Linked DNA regions of Homo sapiens: region 1 is linked to region 2. The links come from fine-mapping of genetic effects on gene expression. A gene starts in region 2. The other region holds a variant in brackets. All regions are shown on one strand. Distances are from middle to middle. Region 1 has its middle 360 kb from the start of LINC00692. Region 2 holds the start of NGLY1 (N-glycanase 1).

Region 1 (11,836 bases), 450 kb before region 2:
GCCAAAAGAACAAAGCTGGAGGCATCACGCTACCTGACTTCAAACTATACTACAAGGCTACAGTAACCAAAACAGCATGGTACTGGCACCGGAACAGAACAGAGCCCTCAGAAATAACGCCACATATCTACAACTATCTGATCTTTGACAAACCTGACAAAAACAAGAAATGGGGAAAGGATTCCCTATTTAATAAATGGTGCTGGGAAAACTGGCTAGCCATATGTAGAAAGCTGAAACTGGATCCCTTCCTTACATCTTATACAAAAATTAATTCAAGATGGATTAAAGACTTAAACGTTAGACCCCAAACCATAAAAGCCCTAGAAAAAACCTAGGCATTACCATTCAGGACATAGGCATGGGCAAGGACTTCATGTCTAAAACACCAAAAGCTATGGCAACAAAAGCCAAAATTGACAAATGGGATCTAAATAAACTAAAGAGCTTCTGCACAGCAAAAGAAACTACCATCAGAGTGAACAGGCAACCTACAACATGGGAGAAAATTTTCACAACCTGCCCATCTAACAAAGGGCTAATATCCAGAATCTACAATGAACTCAAACAAATTTACAAGAAAAAAGCAAACAACCCCATCAAAAAGTGGGTGAAGGACATGAACAGACACTTCTCAAAAGAAGACATTTATGCAGCCAAAAAACACATGAAAAAATGCTCACCATCACTGGCCATCAGAGAAATGCAAATCAAAACCACAATGAGATACCATCTCACACCAGTTAGAATGGCAATCATTAAAAAGTCAGGAAACAACAGGTGCTGGAGAGGATGTGGAGTAATAGGAACACTTTTACACTGTTGGTGGGACTGTAAACTAGTTCAACCGTTGTGGAAGTCAGTGTGGCGATTCCTCAGGGGCCTAGAACTAGAAATACGATTTGACCCAGCCATCCCATTACTGGGTATATACCCAAAGGACTATAAATCATGCTGCTATAAAGACACATGCACACATATGTTTATTGTGGCACTATTCACAATAGCAAAGACTTGGAACCAACCCAAATGTCCAACAATGATAGACTGGATTAAGAAAATGGGGCACATATACACCATGGAATACTATGCAGCCATAAAAAATGATGAGTTCATGTCCTTTGTAGGGACATGGGTGAAATTGGAAATCATCATTCTCAGTAAACTATCGCAAGGACAAAAAACCAAACACCGCATGTTCTCACTCATAGGTGGGAATTGAACAATGAGAACACATGGATACAGGAAGGGGAACATCACACTCAGGGGACTGTTGTGGGGTTGGGGGAGGGGGAAGGGATAGCTTTAGGAGATATACTTAATGCTAAATGACGAGTTAATGGGTGCAGCACAGCAGCATGGCACATGTATACATACGTAACTAACCTGCACATTGTGCACATGTACCCTAGAACTTAAAGTATAATAATAATAAAATAAAATTTAAGAAAAAAAAATTTAAAAAAAAAGAAGAAGAAATAGGAGTAGAAGAAGACCCAGCTAATGGTTTTAGCTTTGCCCCAACAATTTGATTCATTTTTATTAGTCATCTCTTTATTCTTGGTTTTCTCAACTGTAAAATTAGTGAGTTAGATGATCCTGCCAACTAGACCACTTCTTTCTTTCTGATATATCCTACAGTCCAGTGTCAAGAGGCTGTGATGTTGGTTGGTGCCACAGGACAACTCTTAATCCTACTTAATCTAATTTAAATAAGTGCTGAGCACTTCTTTTGGCAACTCCAAATCAACCTGGTCAGGAGAAACTCTACATGCAACTCAGCAATCTATCTGCATAGAAAAGAATCATTATTCCCTGCTTTAATGTTTGACCATATTCTTCACAAGAACTGCTGCATGATCATATCTGAATTTCACTGTTTAATTATCTATCTTCTTATCCTTCAACCTAGACATAGAAATCATCTTGGGCCACATATTAGTCTGTTTTCATGCTGCTATAAAGCACTTACTAAAACTGGGTAACATATAAACAAAACAGGTTTAATTGACTCACAGTTCCACATGACTGAGGAGGCCTCCAGAAACTTACAATCATGATGGAAGGCAAAGGGGAAGCAAGTCACAACTTACATGGTGACAGGAGAGAGAGAGACATTCAGGTGGTGAACTGCCAAACACTTTTAAACCATCAGAACTCATGAGAACTCACTCACTATTATGAGAACAACATGGGGGAGACCGCCCCCATGAGTCAATCACCTCTCACCAAGTTCCTCCCTGGATATATGGGGATTACAATTCGAGATGAGATTTGGGTGGGGACACAAGCCACATTGCACAGATTATCTTGTTACTTTTGCCATTGTCTTGGGTCCTGGCAATCTGTATCTCTTCTTCCACTGGCCCCCTAAACTTGCCTATGATAAAGTTGGAATCCTCTTGTCTTAAGTAATCTTTCTCAGTATTAATTATTTTTAGCTTGTTTTGTAGTTGTTAAAGCAACTTCAACACTGGCATATGAATTCAATTCAAAGCATTGAACCCTTGTGCCACATAGTTCTATACCTACCTGTAGTCCAACAGCCTGGATAACCTCTAAGGCCTTTTCAAGTAATAACATTCTATGATGTCATGGTGCTGTAGCAGTTGTATTAAACATAAAACATTCAGTGAAAGAGACATGCTGGGCTGCAGTTAAAAGACTAGATCATGAGCAGATTTTCAAAAATCGTCATTCACCGGGGCAAAATGGTTTCAGGTTTTCCAACCAGAAATAACTGCATAATACCACTATTATAAAACAGTGGTATACCACTTCATACCTATAAAAATATAGGTACGAAGCCCTATACTCTCAGAATATACAAAAAGCACATCTGTGCTCTATTGTAGGTGAATTATAGAATGATGGGAAGTGCCTAGGATCCCAAGCAATTTTCTCTATTTCCTAAAAATGAGTGGGAGTCCGTATGTACTTTTCTTGTGATGTGTTAATTACCATGACTAATACTTCACCAAACCTTCTCTTTTTCTCTTGGTTGTGGGGGTAGGGTGGGGGTGGTGAGATGCTTTTGAAAAAAACACATCAGAACAAATACATCCAAATTAATGGACTTCCTCAAAGGGCACGCCCTTCGCCTAACAATGCCAACAGGCATGCAAACTCCTCTGAGCTGTACCTTGGGAAACACTTTCAATGCCAGTTTTTTAAGAACATTTTTAAAAATGTCATATCACTTTATGTACGTATACTGTATATTTGGAGAAGAAAAGTCAACTTGATTGATTACCCAGCTCACTGAGCCATTTAGGTTAGCAGGCTTTACCATGAAACACTTGGGGATTTTTTTCTAGAAACCACAGTGACCCACAAAGTCTTATAATCATGACCCATAAATCTTACAGACATTTACACACTGTGCCAAAAGCTGAGGAGGAAAACCTAAAAAAGAAGTTTCAAAGATGTTTTTGTTAGTGACAACATCAATTACAATATGTTTATGGTCTCTTAAGATAAAATATTTTTAAGGTGTTATACTCATTAGGAAGTATAACTTCTGGCCTGCATGTTGTATGTATATTATTTTTTATTTAGCCACCACTCATCTATATATCTTTATAACACTTTATTTCAGAAATAATTTAAAACAGTTTATAAGGAGACATTAAAATACAAGAAATAGCAAAAATTAAAAGTGAAGCAAAAGAAGTACTAAAAAGAAAATCACATTAAGGACATAAATAGAGAACAGGAATGAAGTTTACAATGCACATCATAGTGTGAACTTATGACCCAAAATGTGGCAGGTAGCCAATGGGAAAAAGAAAACCAGGTCAGCTACACAATTCACAATGTTCGGAAGAAAGGAAGCAATTCAACTGCTCAGGGAGAATTGTGTAACTTACAGGATTTCCTTTTCCCATTAACCCATAGGCAGATCCAGTCAAGCTTTTCCTCAGAAAATGGTTTTGAATAAATTCTATGTCCTGGGTGGCTCGGTGAATGAGACCCCAAATTCTGTTCCACGTTGAATACTTCATGGAATATAGCTGTAATACTCATAGCTTTAACATTTTTGAGGCATGTGTAATAAGACACTTGCCTTTATCAAAATAAGATTTTAACAAAGAATATCTAACTTTGAATAATGTTTATTCCTCCAAGAAAAAAATATATTTGCAAATATCTCCTAAAGTTACTTGATTAGGCCACTGTTTGGTGGGATTAGTATGTAATAAATCATCAAAGTTTAAAGAATGCCATCCAAAATATATTTTATCATAGAATAGTTGATATACCTTCTCTTTAAGAAATATATTCGGCTAGTTTACTTTTTTAATGGTTGCAGTATCTTATCACATTCCTCTGAAGATATCAGTTATATTCACATACATGTTCAAAGAGGCTTGTACATGGGTCATCTTTGCACATTGCATATAATAAGGCAAAATTGGAAAGTGCTTAAATGTCCTTCAACAAGGTAAGGGTTAAACACTATATGACACATCCTAGAACACTATGCACATACTAAAATGAATAAGGTGCAGTTAAATTGAGTCTTATGAGAAGATTCTAAAACATATTTGCATTCCTTTTCTGTTTGCTTTATTAATTCTGACCTTTGCTGGTCATTTTTCTATTTGTTGATTCTGATGGCTTTTTTCATAATGTTAGTTTTTCCAACAACTTAATGACTCTTGGTAGTGTGTATCTTTTATTTTGAGATTCTCTATTAGCCTATCTGAGAATACTATACAGTTGACCCTTCATATCTATGGGTTCCACATCTGTAGACTGAACCATTACAGATGGAAAATATTCTAGATAAATAATACAAATAAAAAATAATACAGTATAATAACTATTTACATAGCATTTACATTTTATTATTTGTAAGTAATCTAGAAACTATTCAACTTGTACTGGAGGATATATGTAGGTTATATGCAAATATGCTATTTTACATAAGAGAGTTGAACATATATGGATTTTGGTATCCATAGGAATCCTAGAACCAATCCCCCAGTGGATAGTAAGGGACAACTGTATTTGTCACTATTCATTATAGGGAGAGAACATGCTGCTTCGTAAGACAGGCCTATCTTATTAGTATTAGGACCCTCCCTGGCATATGATATCAACAACCTGGGGCACTGTCCTTTCTCTGAGGCCCGAGTCTCATTCATTGTCTCTGCAGGGGGAAACATTTCTGCTGTCTGTCGCTTGGCACAATTGAGAGGAGCAAATATTGCTGGTTCTCACAGCTTCTCCTTCTGTAGAACCTCACACAGTCATTCTGAGAATTGTTCCAGAGCCTCTTTCTCCTCTGTTGGCAACTCCTGATTTTGAACCTCCCTGACACTGCTCCTATTTTGTGTAGAAAAACTACGCTGTTCATGTTTTAGACAGTCGGTTTGCTATTCCAATCCAATCTGAACTAATTACTTCAGGGATTTCTTATAACATACATCCATCCATCTACAGGATCTGTTCTGGTTTTTCAGCATTGTTACAGATTTTAGTTTTAAAATCTATGCTTGTATTATTTCTAGGAATTTGAAGTGGGAATAGAGGCAGGTATGTTTTTTCAGTCCCCTCTTGCTCTCTTTTTCATAAATATCCAATTGAAACTTCCATGGGGACTGGGTTGATAGAATAGATTAATTTAAGAAGCATTTGCATTCTTACCGATTCTTCCAATACATGAACAATTATTTCTATTTCCCCATGTATTTTCCTTATAAAATGTTATAATTCTACTCACATAGGTCTTAGACACTTTTTATTAATTATTCCTAGGTATTTTGTTCTTTTGTTACTATTGTGAATGAGATCTCCTTTTTCATTAAAATTTCTAACCAACTCCTATTGGTATATTAGGAAAGCTATTGATTTTGATATACTCATTTTGTAACTGACCACCTTGCTTAGCATTTTTATTTTTTCTAACAGTTTTTAAATTGATTCTCTTAGAGTTGCCAGGCAGATGGTCATGGGACAATGTGAAATATGTGTATCAGTATTTTCATTTCAATATTGTTTGCTGTACAGAAAAGTAGAAAATAATATTAATCTCCATCAACAGGAAAATAAGAAATAGATTAAATAAATTATGATGCTTACAGATGATAAAGCACCAAGCAACCTTTGAAAGCAAACATATGTGGAAAGAAATCCACATGTGAAAAGAAAAAATAAAAGGATACCAGATAGCATAAGTATTTTAA[C/T]CCAATTTCCTCATTCTTACATAAGACTCTTTATGTGTATGTTGTGTATATGCAAAGAAAGAAAAAGAAAGAAAGAAAGGAAGGAAGGAAGGAAGGAAGGAAGGAAGGAAGGAAGGAAGGAAGGAAGGAAGGAAAGAAGGAAACAAGGAAAGAAAAAAGAAAAAGTTTAACAGTTATATAACCAAATATTTAAAATGGTTAGATTTTGTTTGCCTAAAAGACCTGCAATGACAATGTCCTACTTTTTTGTAATAAGAAGAAAATAAGCCAGGCATGGTGGTTCATGCCTGTAATCCCAGCACTTGGGAGGCTGAGGCAGGTGGATTGCTTGAGCTCAGGAGTTCAAGACCAGCTTGAGCAACATGGCAAAATTTTGTCTCTATAAAAAATACAAAAATTAGCCAGTCATGGTGGCATGCATGTCCCAGCTACTGGGGAGGCTGAGGTAGGAGGATCACTTGAGCCCAGAAGGTCAAGGCTTCAGTGAGCTGAGATCATGTCACAGCACTCCAGCCTCAGTGACAGAGTGAGATCTTGTCAAAAAAAAAAAAAAAAAGAAGAAGAGGAAGATGACAACAACGATGATGACAACAACGACAAAGAAGAGGAAGACAAAGTTAAAGAAGAAGAAGTAGGAGAAGACACAGAGGTGTTGTTTAAATGTATGTTGCTGGGCGGCTTATTATCATTCACAACAAACATTTTCTGACATATACCATGCTCTCCATGTGACTAGCCACACCATTCTGGCCTATGTAAACTAGTCCACGTGGTGAGATGAGTGGGTAAGCTAGCCAATTAGGGTTCTTCCACTGGAGTAGAGACTGTAAGAGAGAATGATTATAGAGTATTCTCAGAGGCTATCTTAAAAAAGATGAGCTAGACAAAGTTCAGGCTGAGGAATCAGTTTATGGAGTTTTACCATGAAGTCACATCCAATATGGATGGAGTAATTCCAGCAAGGCTGATAAATTCATGGGCATCTCAAACATTGATACTGCTCAATCTAACACTAGCTGAGTGTGTTGCATGTAAATTATTCAGGCCATGTAAACATATCCTGGTACAAGTCTTAAAATTAAATTTGGATGGGAGAAGATAACTAATTGCTAACTCTAGGATATTAGCACTCAAAAAAGCTCTCTGCTTTTAAAAATGAGGCTGATCATATGAGCAGAAATACTCCAAGAGGTACTATCCATACATTGACTATTAATCTTCATCTATGGCAAAATTTCTGATACATAAATATGGGAAGTTGAACACGTGCCTTTATTACAGTTCAATTAAAACCCCACAGAAACATAGAATGTCATGATGGGATAGTTATTTACTGGTTATTGAGTGTAGTCAAAACCAGAAAAAGTTAACATCTTGTCTACAATATACTCACGTATGGTCAGAAAAAGTCAAAACTCCTGTCATGGTAGTATAAAGGACTTTTCATTGATCCGAGGAATGTCAACAAGCATTGTATAGGGAAAAGGAGATATTCGTTAACATAATGGACAAAATCTGATTGAAGATGAAAGTTCTTCACTTCACTCTCTGTTATCATCTCTGCTGCCTTACTTTTCCCCCAACTCTGGCTTCCCTCAGTGCCTTAGGATGGCTATAGCTAATCTAGATACCATATCCAGACTTGACAACATATATATCCAAATCTCTTTCTAATGATCAAGGGAACTCACCCAGAACCCTTTAGCAGATTTATGTTCATTGAACATAATTGAGTCACATGCCCATCTCTCAGCCAGTCACAGCAAATGACATGGGATCTTCTAGATTGGTTTTGAGTAATCAAGATTCAATCTCCAAGTCTGAGGTGAGGATAGCTTTCCCTGAAGCATGTGTGCACATGGAAAAGGCAAGACATTGTGTGAAACTGTAGTTGTTTCATTAGAGGAAGATGAGGGTGGGAGGAAAGGTGGGTAGGCAACCAACAGACAACACAAAGAAACAAGTCTAAGATCACTACAGCAAGAACAGCTTACTCATAGTCCCCAGCATTTGTCCTCAGGTTTTTATCTCTGTATCTAGTTATTATTAACTGCTTCATAAGGAAGGGCACACTCTACTTCTCTAGAAATCTGAATTTCACCTAACATTTTAGGTTCAGTTGAATCCCACCTTGAGCTTATTGACCTCTCCCTAGAAGCAGTGGTCCTCTAAGGCTAACCTGACATCTGACTAAAAGATCTTGTAGAAGCCATACACTCCATTGGCTGTCCTGTTGCTCTGGGAATGTTAAGCTTCACCCTGGGCTATTGCCATGCCTCTGGCTCAAGCAGCCATATGCCTGGAGTTTCTCATTCTCTCACCTCTTCTGGAGTTGTATGAAATACCACGCTGCAAGTAAGAAGGTGTGGCATCCCAGGTTGCCACTAAAAAGGCCACATGATGTAAAGCAGAAAGTGGGGGAGAGTTATGTTCCATGAGATGTATTTGGACCAATGAGAAAATGAAGCTGGGGAGAGGGCTGGGCAAATAAATTTCACCTCCTTTATTGCTCTCATGGACTTCTCTGAGCTGGAGTTTCTCCAACCAGGCTGGAGACATCCTTTAGATTCAGTAAATACATTAGCCAAGCAAACCAGAATGTCTCCCGATGTTGATTATAAAGCAATGGTGAGCACAGCAATGCAGCATTTCATGTCACTTCACATCTTTCTTTTCTCTTTTCCTCACTCTCCTGCTCTAGACTACATCTCCCATATAAAGCCTCAGCTTTTCACCCTTTCCTCAGACTCTACTTTCCAAGAACCCAGGCTATGATAGACATTACAAAGAGCTATGGGATAGATGCCTCTCTGGACCACCCAACATTTGCTTAGCCAAAAAAGGAACATGGAACATTCTGGCTTCGGTCCCACAGGCAAAGTTTGCATAAATTATACAACAAAATGGGTATTCATTTTCTGGGTATTTTGGAAAGAAGATTTAATTTTTGTATCAACAACATAATTCATGACATCGTACATATTTACTTACAAAAATGTAAAACTATTGTATACTATGTAAAATCTATAAAGCATATAACATGACTGTACTGCAGAGGCAATATCCAAATCTTCCAAATGTACATCCTTGGCTGACTGACTGACATTTAAACAAATCATAAGACCAGTTACTTCATCCAATCAGAACTCAGCAATGCCTTGAGCCCCCAAAGTTGCTTGCTTATATCATCTATTACAACTCATGACTAAATTTTGATAGCAGGTTATGTAGAATTTTATAAGCTACAGAAATCAACTAAAAAATTGAATTGTCATGAATAATGACTGACAATAAAATAATCATAGAAATGATCATAGAGAGAATGTGACAAAGGTGGAAAATTTGAGTCAGATTAGGTAAAAATAATTTTTAATTGGTCACCTATGAATTAAGAATGCATTCTGCTTGTGTGACATTTGCCTGAAGAATTGTTCACCTAGAACCAATCCCCTCACCTTCTTCTGAGTTTCCACTGCCCTATAACTTTGCTATTTATCATGAACTGTTTTCATGCTTTTGTTCATGCTTTCCCGTCTGTCTGAGACACCTTTCCTTTTTTAGCTCTCTACTTCTAACTCAGTTCTTGTGTTACCCTCTTAAAGAGCCTGCACCATTAGGCAGTGGTTGGCATACTACATCCCATGGGCCACATTGGTCTCACCCCTGGTGTTTTAATAGCCTGACAGCTAAAAATAGTTTGTACAGATAAACATTTGCAATCAATCTGATGATGGGAAACACTATCTTTGAGTTCCAGTTAAGCAAGATGTTATCTACCTCCCAACAACAGCAATAACATAAAGTCCTTCTCCTTGATAGAATATCTGCATTACAAAAAACAATGGACTCAATTATTATTAATATACTGAATTATTTCAAAAAAATTTATGGATATTTCTTTCCTCTCTTGTTATATAAATACCTGTACAAGATCTTTGATTTTGCCTCTTGGCCCACAAAGCCTAAAATATTTACCAGCTTGCCTTTTAAAGAGAAAATCTACTAATTCCTGCTCTGGAATCATGGAGCCCAAAGCAGTCAGAAAACTTATCTATTCAGCACCTGAATATCCAGATAAAGAAACCTATGCCCAGAGAAGGAATGAGTCCTGCCTGCCCCCTGTTTTGCAGCAGCCCTAAGATGGGTCTCCCAAGCCTCTGGATGCACCATGCTCCTCCCCAACTCAGAGCTCCACAGATGTTTGTTAAGTGAAACACGATTTCTCAAAGAACATGAAAACCAGACAGTATGCCCAATCGCCATCACATATACCTCTCCTCTTCTAACTTTTTCTCCTTGTTTAATTTAATGGAAATCCAATGCTTGGCTGAAATTCAAACCTCACTCTGGCTGCAGTAAGTGCTTGAAGATGTTATGTGAGAAGCAGCTGTGAAGAAGGAGTGCAATCAGTTAAGTGTGAACAGGATTGAAAGCCTGAAAAGACTCCTACAGCCTAATAATGTCTTATTAAAAAGCTCTGGCAAGGCTGCACCAGCTTGACAGTTGGCCCTCACCTTTCATCTTTCTTTTCAAACAGCTCAGTAAAACCCATCTATCTACCTCTGTCTGAAGACCTGCCATTCCACAAGGCAGAACTTTTCACCTGGGGCACAGTGTTTACATTGGAACTCCATACATCATATTTACAAAAAAGGCCAGACACAACTGAGCAGCCTGCCTGCACATTATATTTAAATTTACTATTTTTTAAAAGAGGTCCTTTTAAAAAATACATTAAATTTGTGCTAGTAATAAAAGAGCTATTTGAACTTGTGTGATTTGTGTTTAAAGGTCATCAGCTGTATGAAACCTGTTCTGTGGAGACTGTAATGGAATGGCTGAGAGCTGAAAAATATTGAGCTGTTTTCCCTCCGTGTTTATAAAACTTATTTAAAAGCATGTTGATTATAAATACTTTTAAACTATTTACTTCTCTAGCAGTTGTGCTTGGGAAAATTAGAATCCCAACTCGCATGTTTAATGAGACAAGTCAAGTTCAGAGAGAGAGAGAGAGGGATACATACATACACATATACATACATACGGTGTTATTATTGCAAAAAAAAACACACATGATTCTCTGAGCAAATGCTTGATGATGAAGATCATGTATAGTCTAAAGCTCAGAGATAGGATTTGTAGCCAAGCACACTGTGCTTAATTTATAGGGTAAGTTTTAGAAATAATATTCACATTATGGTGGTAGTTGGCTGGGGGTTTTTTCTATGTATTCCTACCTGCATTCTTGTCACAGCCAGTCTATGGATTGTGCCTGAGACAGGATGCTTGTGAGGACAAAGCCATGGTGGTCACTCCTACTGAGCTTTTTCTTGAAACAGCTTCTTTCTTTCCAACCCATTCAGATATATTCTGTATAAATAAAATCCTCAGTAGACCATAAAAATATTGTTAGTGTTCATTTGGGAAAAAAAAAATCAAAGATCCAGAAATGTTTTGGCAGCTTAAGAAATAAAGGCATTCTATTTTAAGAGTAAAAGTAACATATGCTTCACTAATGTGTCGGAAGAAGGGAGAATGAAGGACCCGTAGAACTGAAGAGTCTGAGGAAGGAGGTGGTAAGGAGGGAAAAGCAAGAAGTATCTGTCACATTTGTCATTTTCCTACCTTTTCCAGGGTATGTTCCT
Region 2 (11,836 bases):
TATATCGAATGCTGACCTGGCCTGCTGCCATATTGACCAGAATCTTAGGGACAAAAAATGGGCTAACTTTATTGTAACCTTTTGTCTGAAAATTCAAAGCAGTTTCAGAAACAACTTCAAGAGGAATCATTCCCATGCCAATTGCAACACCAGTAGCCACTTGATCAGCTTCTGACTGAGGATGCCAGCCAGAATCCTTCATGGCTAATTCTGCAGCCCCAATGGCCATGATGGTGGGAGAAGACATGGACTTGATATCTGATTTGGACACAAAGTTTTGTTCATTGAACTGACCTTCATCACTACCTCTTGGCACATAAGCAGCAACACTGCAAGGGATACTCTTATACTCTTCACCAACCAGTGAAACAATTCCACTCTCTCCTCCGATAAGACGATCCCAAACCAGGTGAGTTCCAACACCAAGAGGAGTCACTAAGCCAATGCCTGTAATGACAACTCGCCTATGCAATCTGGATATTGGCACAGTTCCGAAAAACTTCCTTTTACTTCTTAACTGTTGGCATAATCTTGAACATAGAAGACGAGTGCTTGTAATTTTCAGGAAATTTTGCAGGCAGTTGGACATGATTAAGATTCAGATGATCAGAAACACATTCCTGTAAAAGACCACAACACACCTAGGAGGTATTCTTTTAAATAGCTTAAGGGCCTAAGGAAAAACATCCAAGGTGTTCCTTTGGGTGCTTGATATGAGCTGCTAATGAACACAGGGAAAATGTTACATACTTTCAATTTATACCTTAACATCAAACTATCTGTTTAAACTTACCTTCTTTTTTAGACCTTAAGTGCCGTCAGACATTTGAAGACAAATAAATGAATTGATGATTCATTCGAGTCACCAAAACAGTAATTCAATGAAAAATATAAAGGCACCTCCAGCCTGATTTGAGCTGCAGGAAGCATCCTTTGTCAGGATTACTGATAACTTCTTCTAAATAGCATTTCTGGTGTCAGTGGCACAGAAAACACATTTCAGGGCATATTCTTTTAAGTAAGTAAGTGGGCTTTATCAATCTTCAGTACTTAAGGATAACCAGCCTTTTCAAAACGCTACCCAGGGCCAAGAGCCCTAGACTGAGCGTCTGGATACATGGGTTGGCAATACACTCTGTGACCAAGCTTGCGATGGGGGAAGGGGACAAGTCTTTCCACTCCTCTAAACTTCTCCAATTGAATCATTGGTGGAAGGAGGGGTTACGACTAGTGGATCACTTCAAGGGTACTACGAAGGCCAGGGGCGGGAGTAAAAGAGTGTAGCCATTCCCTGTATCGCCTCTCAGGCACCACCACACATGTACACAGCCCGAAGAAGCATGGCGAGAGAAAAAGAAATCAGGCCCCAGGTCCTCGGACTCCCCTCTCGAAATTCAACCCCGACTTGATTTGAATGTAAAGGAGGAAAGGAGGGGCGAAGGAGGAGGGTAGCCAGCGATACCTGTAACGGGGCTACCCCGGACACTTCTCCACAGTCGGGGGCGATGACGCTCTCGAGCGCACGCGCACACGCACGTACGCTCATGCGCGCTCGCACGTACGCTCATGCGCTTTCCCACGCACGCGTCCCGTTCGACTCTCTTTCCGCCGGTTGACTTTAAGCCGCGTCACCTTGGCTGAGGTCAGACCGTGGGAGGCGGCTGGGTAGCTGTTTGCGTGAGCAGAGACGCCCCTCTCGGAACCTCAGTGACTCGCCGATAATCGAGGACCTGCCAATAACGCGATGAGGTAGCATTTTCACCCATCAAAAAGGCATTTTTCTTTGGCAGTGATAATGCCCAAATATTCCCTTTTGTCGGAGAAGGGACACCATCGTATTCTACTGGAATTGTAAGAAAGAATTAAGGAAATTCTCTGCAGTTTCAAAGTTATTGCTATAGCTCGCAACGTTATTAGTAATTGTGAGTAAAGTGGAATTAACCAAAATGGCCAACATCAGGAAATTTGTTGTGTATCTTGTGGTACATCCAAATGCCATGCAGCCGTTTAAAATAATTCTGCAGGTGAATATTTATTAATGAGATGTTGCGACTATTTGTTAGGAGACATAGTTACAAAACAGTATATATCCGTTTTTTCAAAAATAATTCTTTAAAGGTCTGCAAGATGTATACTGATTGTGATCTTTCCCTCCTTATTTTTGCTTAGCTTTATTTAATAAAGCTTTTCTACAATAAACAAATGTTTTTGTAATAAAGTTTTTACTTTTTAAAAGTTGTCACCAGGCTGTTCTGCCTATGGAGTAGTCATTCTTTGTTCCTTTACTTTCCTAATAAACTTCCTTTCACTTAAAAAAAAATTATCACCAGATTTGAGACAGTGCTCAAAAATTGTCTCCATTGTCACAATGGAGACATTTGTTTCTAAGTGTGAAAAATTCATTAACTGTTTGCTTAGAGCTGACTGCAAACCGATAAAGGGAAAATATAACATGAAAATGTAAAAAAGCAAGAAGTCGACAAGATGGTATTCATCGAACATCTGTTTTTCACATGCTATCCCAGGCGTGAGTTTTGTCCTTGCTCTTCTTTAGAAAAATGGTTGAGCATAGAATCTTCATCTGGACCTTCTAGTCATATTTATGGTTTTTTCTGGGCAATGCCTCTTGAAGCCATTGTTTCCAAGTAGAGTGCTCTGCATTCTTTCCTACCCCTACAGAAGAATGTGAGTCAAGCTTAGCTTTCCAGGTTGGTCCTGGATTTAAATGAGTTTGGAAATCTATTTTGTTTAAAATAATTCAGCAAAGCTCAGTTTGACCTTCGTCCCAGGCCTAACCAGTCACCTCTAGTTGATCCTCATTCAGTGACAAAGTAGAGTTTCTTGAAGAATTAAAACAAACACATGTGGTTATAAAGTAACACTTGATGAGTAAGTACCTAAACTTGATCTCTTTTCATTGCTGTCTTTAAAATAATAGTGTGAAAATACCTACAATATTTTCTCTGAAGCTGAACTCATAAGAAACATACAGTTTTAATGTGCTATTTCTTTTGTAATATCACAAAATCGTCTTGGCTAAGAGGTGACAAAATCTTTCAGAAAAATAAAAAGACCATCATTTTTGTATCTACCTCTTATCACCTTTTCTTTGATCTGGAAAAGGGTGGGAAATTTTATGATATTTAATGGCTTTACATATTTGGTACCATATTTCCTGCTACAATTCCATCGTGTCTTCTTGCACCAAAATCTTCAAATGGGCTCTGCTTATCCTACCCTCCTATTAAGACTTCCTAGGTTTGCCTTAAATTCTTTGTAATCTGATTCAAAACTATCTTTCCAATTATGGCTCCCATTCTCTATTAAATGAGCTTGCCACCCAGCAAACTGATTTTCTCACTATACATGTCTTGATTGACCCTAACTTTTCTCATCTCTGTGCTTTTGCTATTTTCAACAACCACTCATTTTCTTCCTATCAATGCTTGAAGTTTGAATGCAAAAATGAGTAGAGGTATGGCTCTTGCTTTCAAGAAGTTTATGGTCTAGTAAAGGGAGACACCCATAGAAACAAGTAAGTGCAAACTGTTGAAACAGGTGCTATAGTGGAATTATTATAACACAAAAGGGACAATGAGGTCTGTGCTACCTCGTAAAGTCAGAAAAGGCTTCAGAGAAATGATCCTTGAACTGCATCTTGGAAATGAATGTTTGTCTAGTAAATTGGGTGGGAAAGGGCATCCTGGCAGGAGGAGAACAAAGGCCTGGAGAAATGAAGTGTCATGGTATCTTCCACAAACAGCTAAATATGTGGCCCATGTCAAATTTGAAGTGTGGGACAAAGCAACAGTAAACGCATGAGAGTAAGGCAGGGCCCAGATCACAAAAGCCTGGGGTATCATACTGAGGACTTTGGATTTAATCCCGTAGTTCAGAGACCATATGCTAGCCTTCATGGTATAATTTGGAGTGCAACATTCTTTTATTGATTCTAAACTCCTCTAGAAAGGACATGGTAAACTCTCTCATTCCCTTCACTGGAGTCTCTCTTACTCCTCTTTGTCTTGAACAAAGCCACTTAAAATATTTAACTTACCAGCCTGGTTCCTGACACCATTTGACTTTAGAATGTGGATAGAGGGAGCCATAGAAAACTTTTTACCAGGAGAACAACATGATCAGATGGGTGCTTTAGAAAGATCACTATTGCACAAATGAGCAGGGTGGGTTGGAAGGATGTGGAAATGGACACAGGGAAGAAAGTTAAGAATGGATGAAACACGAGGCTCTGAAGGCAATGGCAAGGAGAGATCCAGGAGATGTTGAGAAGGAAACGTTACTAGGATATTGTACATGATTTAAGGAGGGTGGGGAGTCTCTCACAGGTAGCAAGTCCTCTCCTTTCTCACCTTCTCAACCTCTCAATTTAAGGCTTCTGTTCAAGTTGTCCCCCCTCACTGAAACTGCAGCCCACAGTGAAATTTTCCTCCCTCTAAACTAGTAGTTCTCAAAGTTTACTGTTAATCAAAATCACCTGAAGGGCTTGTTACCACACAGATTGCTGGGTCCCACCTTTAAATGTGGAGCTTCAGAATTTGTTTTTCTGACAAGTTTCCTGCTGATGCTGCTGTTGCTTGTCCAACCACTGCTCTAAACTTATGACTTCTATGAAAGTAGGGACCATACTTGTCTCCTTCACAGTGCTGAGCAACTAGTAGTCACTTCATAAATACATGATGAATGAATGAATTATGGAATGAATAAATCAACATTTATCCTTACATTTGATAGTACACATGCACTTTTTGTGCATTTCTCACCAAATGACTTTTGCGAAAACCAATGCCATAGCATTAATATTGTGATAACAATGTACAGTCCATAAAATCATGGAAATCACCATTTTAAAAAAATCATCTGAAATTTAAGTCCTTCCAAATAACTCTTTAGCAACACTTCTGTTAAAGTTCTTGAGTAACTGTAATCTCTTTTGAATATTGCCATTTATAAAGCTATTAAGGGAATCCATTATATAAAGGGACTTGGTCTCTCATTTTCCTGGCTGCTTCCCCCACTTCAGTCAAGTTGGAGATATTCTAATTCTTCCATTTCCTTTAGAAAAGCTGAATAAGCTACCCTAACTTTTATACCCATCGTTGTTTCAAACAACCAAAGAATGGGTACTAAATCAGCATTGAAATTCTTGTTCTTTTATTTATTTATTTTTGTTCCAAAATAAAGATTTTTTTTTTCCCCAGGATTTCACCTTTATTAAAAACATCATTTTTAGAGTTGACATATCATGGCGCTATTCTTTTTTTTTTTTGAGGTAGAGTCCCGCTCTGTCACCCAGGCTGGAGTGCAGTAGGGCAACCTCAGCTCACTGCAACCTCTGCCTCCTGGGTTCAAGCGATTCTCCTGCCTCTCAGCCTCCCAAGTAGCTGGGACTCCAGGTGTGCACTAACACGCCTGGCTAACACTATTCTTTAATAAAACAAAAAAGAAAGAACTCTGTAAATTTTCCCCACGATTGGTTTGGTGATATTAAAAAGTTAACCTCCATAAAAACCATTAGCAAGGGGAGGAGTTGAAGTCTTTCAGGAATTTGTATAGTGATTCACTATTGTGTGACTACATTGAGTGATTAACCAACAACTCTATTCAGTACCTGCTGTGTGCAAAGCAGTCTGAGACAGATGGCACAAGAGACTTTTAATCAAATAGGGAAGACAAAACTAATGATAACTTACAGTGAGATAGCGTTTTAGTTGAGGAAACAAACTATTATGAAGAGAAAAACAAAAGTCATTTTGTTCCCCCACAAAAGTACCCTATGACCATTCTATCTGTCAGGGGAAAGCCTTAGCTGACAGCTTTCTGCCCTTCACTTGACACCTCTGCTTCAATACCAGAGCATTTCCACTTTGGTGTTTTGTATATAGACAATCTTCCTATGTTTTTGTTTTTGTTTTTTTTTTGTAGAGATGGGGTCTTGCCATGTTGCCCAGGCTGGTCTTGAACTCCTGGGCTCAAGCGATCCACCTACCTCGGCCTCCCAAAGTATTGGGATTACAGGCGTGAGCCACCATGTCCAGCCCCTAAAATTTTATTTGAAAAAAAAAAAAAAGTTCTGTTGCATTTTTAAAAGTTACAAGTACTGTATAATATATACTATTCTCATATAATTAGTAAAGGATAAATAAATGTATCAATGGAAAAAGAAACCCAAATTAAGAGGAATAAAGTTTGTGATAGCTATATCTCCAGACCCAAGCCCCCAATCCATTGTGTAGTTGGACGAGACTACATTTCCCAGACTCTCCCCTTTTATCTTTTTATGTGTTTTTAAATTTTTTTTTTATTTTTTGTAAATCTGGCCTTACTGAAATACCCCCTTTTATCTTGATGAGGCCTCATTCTTAGTAATGATATGGTAGAGAAAATGCTGTGTGTCATTTCTGGGCTCATGTGGTTAAAAGTAGGTGTGACTTTTTTTTTTTTTTTTTTTTTTTTGTCCAAGCAGGCTGCCTGGATTTGTAAATAAAATTTCACTAGAACATAACCATGCCCATTTATTTTCAAGTATTGTCTGTGGAGCAACAGCTGCAGAGGCAGAGTTAAATAGTTGAGACAGACCTTATGGCTCACAAAGCCTAAAACACTATGTGGCCCTTTACAGAAAATGTTTCTTGACCCCTGTTCTAAGGTATGGAAGGAGACTGGGTCCACTGACATTATGACACCTGCATTATTAAAGTGTTATATGAGCCAGAAAGAAATTACTCTTGTGTTAAGCCCCTGAAAATTTTAGTTACAGACGGTAGTAACATACTACTATCTGTTGAACACACCATACTTGGAAGGTGGTCCAAAGATTTACATATTTATTAAAAGCGTACGTATATTTGGGAGACGAATAGTCATTGAACTGGATGTCATAGCTTAGGGTCTTGTTCGGAGATTCTGGAAGAAAATTTCAATTCTTAAAAGTAAACAGATGAAACATCAAGAAATTTAAAAGAGGTTATTCAGGCAAATCACTTATCTTAAGAAATAAAGTCAAGAAAAATACTTCGTGAGGTTGAAAAGGAATTTCTGCAAAGAAGGAAGCCACTGGTAAAGTACACTTTCAAGAACATGGTGGGGAAGAGACTGGATTAAAGTAGTAAGGGATGCATCTTCTAAGAGGAATAAAAGACCTTGATCACATGATCTACCTAAAAAACAAGTCACAAAATATTACTTACCCTTACTGTGTGGGATGCAAATTTTTATTCCCTTCCCGCCCCCGACATTCTATAATATTGCGTAATTATTATGCATGTGTTTTACGCTGGTCACCACGCGGTAAACCGAATCCACAACCCATTATTATGTCGCAACCTATGGTTTAAAAATACACTTCCTTACAGAGGAATCATATACTAGTTGAGCTGGAACTTAGATTTTCAGTCATTAGCCAAATTCTGAAAAGAATCCATATAACAAACCCAGCAGAGTTTATAGCCATGGTTTTGTTTTTGACGTTTGTTGCTCCTTCCTTCTGTAGTCTTTCATCCACATCTATGTAGAACGTCCTGACAATCTGCGAAGAGAAGGCTCTAAGGTGGTTTTATTTGTGGGGAAAGGAGGGAGGTACATGCGGTTTCTCCACCTTAATAGCTGGATCAATTAGGCTGGCCCCGGAGCGCAAAGGGATCCGGGTTTCTGAGAGGCACGTGCCAGCACCATTCGCCCGATACCTCTAGACCAAAGCCGGCCTCCCCTCCAGCCGAGCTCCTCCGTCCTAAAGGACTCGACATCCCCCTCCTCCAGGCCCACACCCCTCAGCCCCGGAGCCCAGGCCCCGCCTCTCCCTGCGGAACCCCTTCCCAACCTGTACGACCAGGCCCCAACTCTGGGTCGAAGCACCTCGCCCCTGCCGGCCGAGGCCCCCCACCTTCTTCCGAACAGCCCCTTGCCCCCCGCGAAGGGGCAGCCGTAGCTCCCAGCCGAGCTCCCCCGCTCCTGGCCCCGGTCCCCGACCCCGCCCCAGGCCCCCGACCCCGCCCCTGCCGGCCGAAGACCCCGCCCCTGCCGGCCGAGGACCCCGCCCCTGCCGGCCGAGGACCCCGCCCCTGCCGGCCGAGGACCCCGCCCCTGCCGGCCGAGGACCCCGCCCCTGCCGGTGGCTGCGGTAGCTGCTGCGCGCTGAGGCGCCTGCTCAGTGTGGGACGCGGAGAGCGAGGGGCGGCGGCGGCGCCCGCTGGCGCTCAAGCATGGCGGCGGCGGCATTGGGCAGCTCCTCAGGCTCGGCGTCCCCGGCCGTGGCTGAGCTCTGCCAGAACACCCCGGAGACCTTTTTGGAGGCCTCCAAGCTGCTGCTCACCTATGCTGACAACATCCTCAGGTGCAGGGCAACGGGGTCGGACGGCGGGTACCGGGGTGGGTGGGCCGCGGCACCTTGTTCGGCCAGGGACTGGGGCGTCCGGCCTGAGCTTCAGAGGGCAGCGACGCCCGGACAGACCGGGACCTGGAGCTGGTTCTGCTCCTAACGTCCGAGCCCGCCGGCCAGGGGCCTCGGGACCCGGCCAAGTCCCACCCCCGCTCGAGAAAAGGAAGTTTCTTTGCAGTTGTGACTTGGCACCTGCAGTCAGGGTGCTGCGGGTGAACTGGAGTCCCGGAAGCGGGGCCGGGCGGAGGAGAGGTAGGAAGGCGTGCTTCAGACACTGCCGCTCTTCTCGTCGTTTAACGGCCTCAGATATCGGGACACAACGGTAACCGCACCGCGCGTGTCATTCCCCCTGCGTGCATTTTTCGAGCGGAGTGGCTTACATTTCCACATACTTATCAGAAGTTACTCACTGACAAAGTGATGTTTTCTTCCCATGTTGAGACTATCCGAGTACTAAAGCATAATGCTTCTGAAGTGGTGGGTTTTAAAATTTTTAATTTTTTTTCTGCCCACTTTTGTTGATTGAAACATTATAGTATTTTGAAGTTACAGTTTTTATATTAATACCTGGATTCTACTATGTAACATAACCCTTTAAGAATTCGTGGAGGTAATCGCCTTGGATGAGAGTAATTTCCTTCATTCTCCTGTCAGCAAAATTGCACTTCTAGAGGTCTAAGGGACCTTGCAGATTTTGGGAATTGGGAGGCAAGTTTGATTATTCATTTTGAATAAGTACCCACCTCAACTCTTCAGATCAAATGATCTGAAGGGACATGGTGTGGGGGGGTAGGGAAATGGAACTGAGGTTAAAGGAGAGCCACTTGCTTTAGGGGTGTTACCTCATTTATCAGGTCACCGTGATTAATTAGGTTCTCTGTTCCCCTCAGCCCCTGGTGCATTAAGTGTTTGGTATATTGTCATGAAGTCTAAAAGGAAATTCTCAGTTTCAAGGTTATAGGTTTCACGTGACCCAATTTTAGACATTAGTTACATGTGCAGTTTTTAAAATCCATGTCAGTAATATTTCATTTAGGCAATGGTAATGATTTTTAAAGTAAATTGAAGGGAAAATATATTGAGCCCTTATTTTGTGGCAGATGCTATGAAAGATGCAACATGTGGCCTGTTCACAGCTACATAATTGTGACCTGTGTGGGGACCACCTTCGTGCTCTGTGACACCTTCTCAACTCACCTTTTTTACTCTTTGAGGCCTTACAGCTCTTCACAGTACAAGGATGCCAAGGGACTCCATAAATGAACTGATAGGCTGGGTTCTCCAGAGCCCATTAGCTGAGACTTACCACCTGGAAAGCCACCAGGCTATTTAAAACCCCACTAGTCAGAAAAGAGAGGTGGCCTTGTAATGAAGCCTCACTTCTGCTTTAAATCTAGTGAAACCCAAAATGCTGAGGTTTAGTATGAGGGGGAAACCTTTGCATGCAAATAATGACATTTAGCATCATAATCTTCATTATGAATGTTTACTAATGGCTCGTTGCTGATTTTCGTTTTTGAGACGGAGTTTGCTCTTGTTGATGAGGCTGGAGTGCAGTGGCGCGATCTTGACTCACTGCAACCTCCGCCTCACAGCTTCAAGATTCTGAAAGATGAGGGGTGTGACAATGAGCGCAAAGGATAGTGGACACACTGGAATAATGCTGAGAAATTAAGAGTTTAAGAAAGTCTTTGTGCGTTGCTTTTCCAAGGATAGGAAAGAGGATATGATGGGTTTGAAGTCTAATGTCCCTACAGCCCTCTAAGTCTTTGAGGGCTTTAGGGTCAGGCCTTTGGTATCAGTCTATACACAAAACCACGGTCAGTTTACTCAACATACTTAATAAGAAAAAGAATTTGAGGAACTGGATGTGACTGTCATTGCTGGAGCCTGTTTGCAGTATACTTTTACTGAGAAAAATAGATTAATGTGAGGTCCAGAGATGATATAAAAATAAAATTGCTCACTGGGCACGGTGGCTCACACCTGTAACCCCAGCACTGTGGGAGGCCAAGGTGGGCGGATTGCTTGAGCTTAGGAGTTTGAGACCAGCCTGGGCAACATGGCTAAACCCCGTCTCTACAAAAAAATTAAAAAATTAGCCAAGCGTGGTGGCAGACACCTGTAGTCCCAGCTACTTGGAGGGCAGAGGTGGGAGGATGGCTTGAGCCCATAATCATGCCACTGCATTCTAGCTTTGATGGCGAAGTGAGACCTTTCTCAAAAAAGAAAAAAAAAATGCTCACTAGAAACTAAAGAGGAAAATCTATATTGTATATCAATAGTTAAATGGTAACAACATATATCAAAATAACAAAGGCCAGTCGAAGTGGCTCCAACCTGTAGTACCAGGGCTTTAGGACACCCCAGGTAGAAGGATTGCAGCCGGGGCAACACAGTGAGACCCCATCTCTTAATAAAAAAAAAAAATAGCCAGGCGTGGTGGCTCACCTGTAGTCCTAGCTACTTCAGAGGCTGAGGCAGAGGATTGTTGAGCCCAGGAGTTCTAAGCAGCAATGAGCTTTGATGGCGTCATTGCACTCTAGCCGGGGTGACAGAGCAACACTTTGTTTTTTAAAAAACAAAACAAAAACTATATGAGAACTGATGTGTATTTTATAAGAATTTTTAAACAATTGTGAAAGCAGGAAGAAACTAGAAAATTAGCCCAGAGAAAGACCCAGCATGTAGAGATCTGAAAGCTGTGAGGAAAAGAATAGATTAAAATAGCTCAAGCAGTTTTGAACCAGTAGGATATATCATCCTGGTGGTACTGACATGTTTATCACCCTGTGAAATACATTGAGTGTCAGGAAAAGATGCCCCATTTATCGAAAACTAGCTTTGATAAATGTAGGATTATTTTATAGTTCAGTTTTCTTAAGTGATAAGAAAGAGAGGCTCACTTGTGAGACAGTGTAGCATGGAAGCCAGGAATGCGAATGTTCTGCAGTGCACAAGGAAACTCCACTGAGAAAAGGCCCCACATGTTAATGGTGCTGAGACTGAGAAACCCTAATCTAATACACAGAATAAAGAGTTGAGAATAAAATTTTCTTTGTATTTCACAACCATCTGTGATTCTCAAATTACATATAGTAAAGAACAATGTTTTTGTTTTAATTTCCAATCCCTTATGGACCTATAACTTTTGTAAAATACACTGAAAATTTCATGGCAATATCAAATTGCTGTATACCGAACATTCAATTTCTCTACTTCTTGCTTCATTTTTATGCACTTGTAAACAAACAAAGAAAAAATTTCTGTACTACTTGTGTATGGGTAACAAATAATTTGTAGATTAGCACCAATCTGTGGACATTTTGAATAGCAAAAAAAATAGAGCATTTGTCTCTGAATATTCTGTAATAAACATGATTTTTGAAATTAGGGAAAAGTTTAAAAACATTCATTTAGTATTTATGACACTTTGGCCAA

What was found.
Region 1: its variant is fine-mapped to the expression of NGLY1 in sun-exposed skin (GTEx, PIP 0.98).

What each region holds. Positions count from the first base shown.
Region 1 is chr3:26,228,684-26,240,519 of GRCh38, reverse strand. No RefSeq gene overlaps it. Among named protein-coding and RNA genes, the nearest start is that of LINC00692, 360 kb to the right of the region's middle. The variant C/T (reference allele first, on the strand shown) is at 6,192.
Region 2 is chr3:25,779,774-25,791,609 of GRCh38, reverse strand. NGLY1 (N-glycanase 1) reads left to right here and starts at 8,167. Exons shown (of 12, transcript NM_018297.4): 1 at 8,167-8,350. The coding sequence starts at 8,220. OXSM (3-oxoacyl-ACP synthase, mitochondrial) reads right to left here and starts at 1,520. Exons shown (of 3, transcript NM_017897.3): 1 at 1,463-1,520; 2 at 1-620. The coding sequence starts at 589. RefSeq lists enhancers at 1,223-1,292, 1,303-1,372, 8,528-8,577, 8,738-8,817, 10,205-10,374 and 1 more and silencers at 1,475-1,694, 7,978-8,217.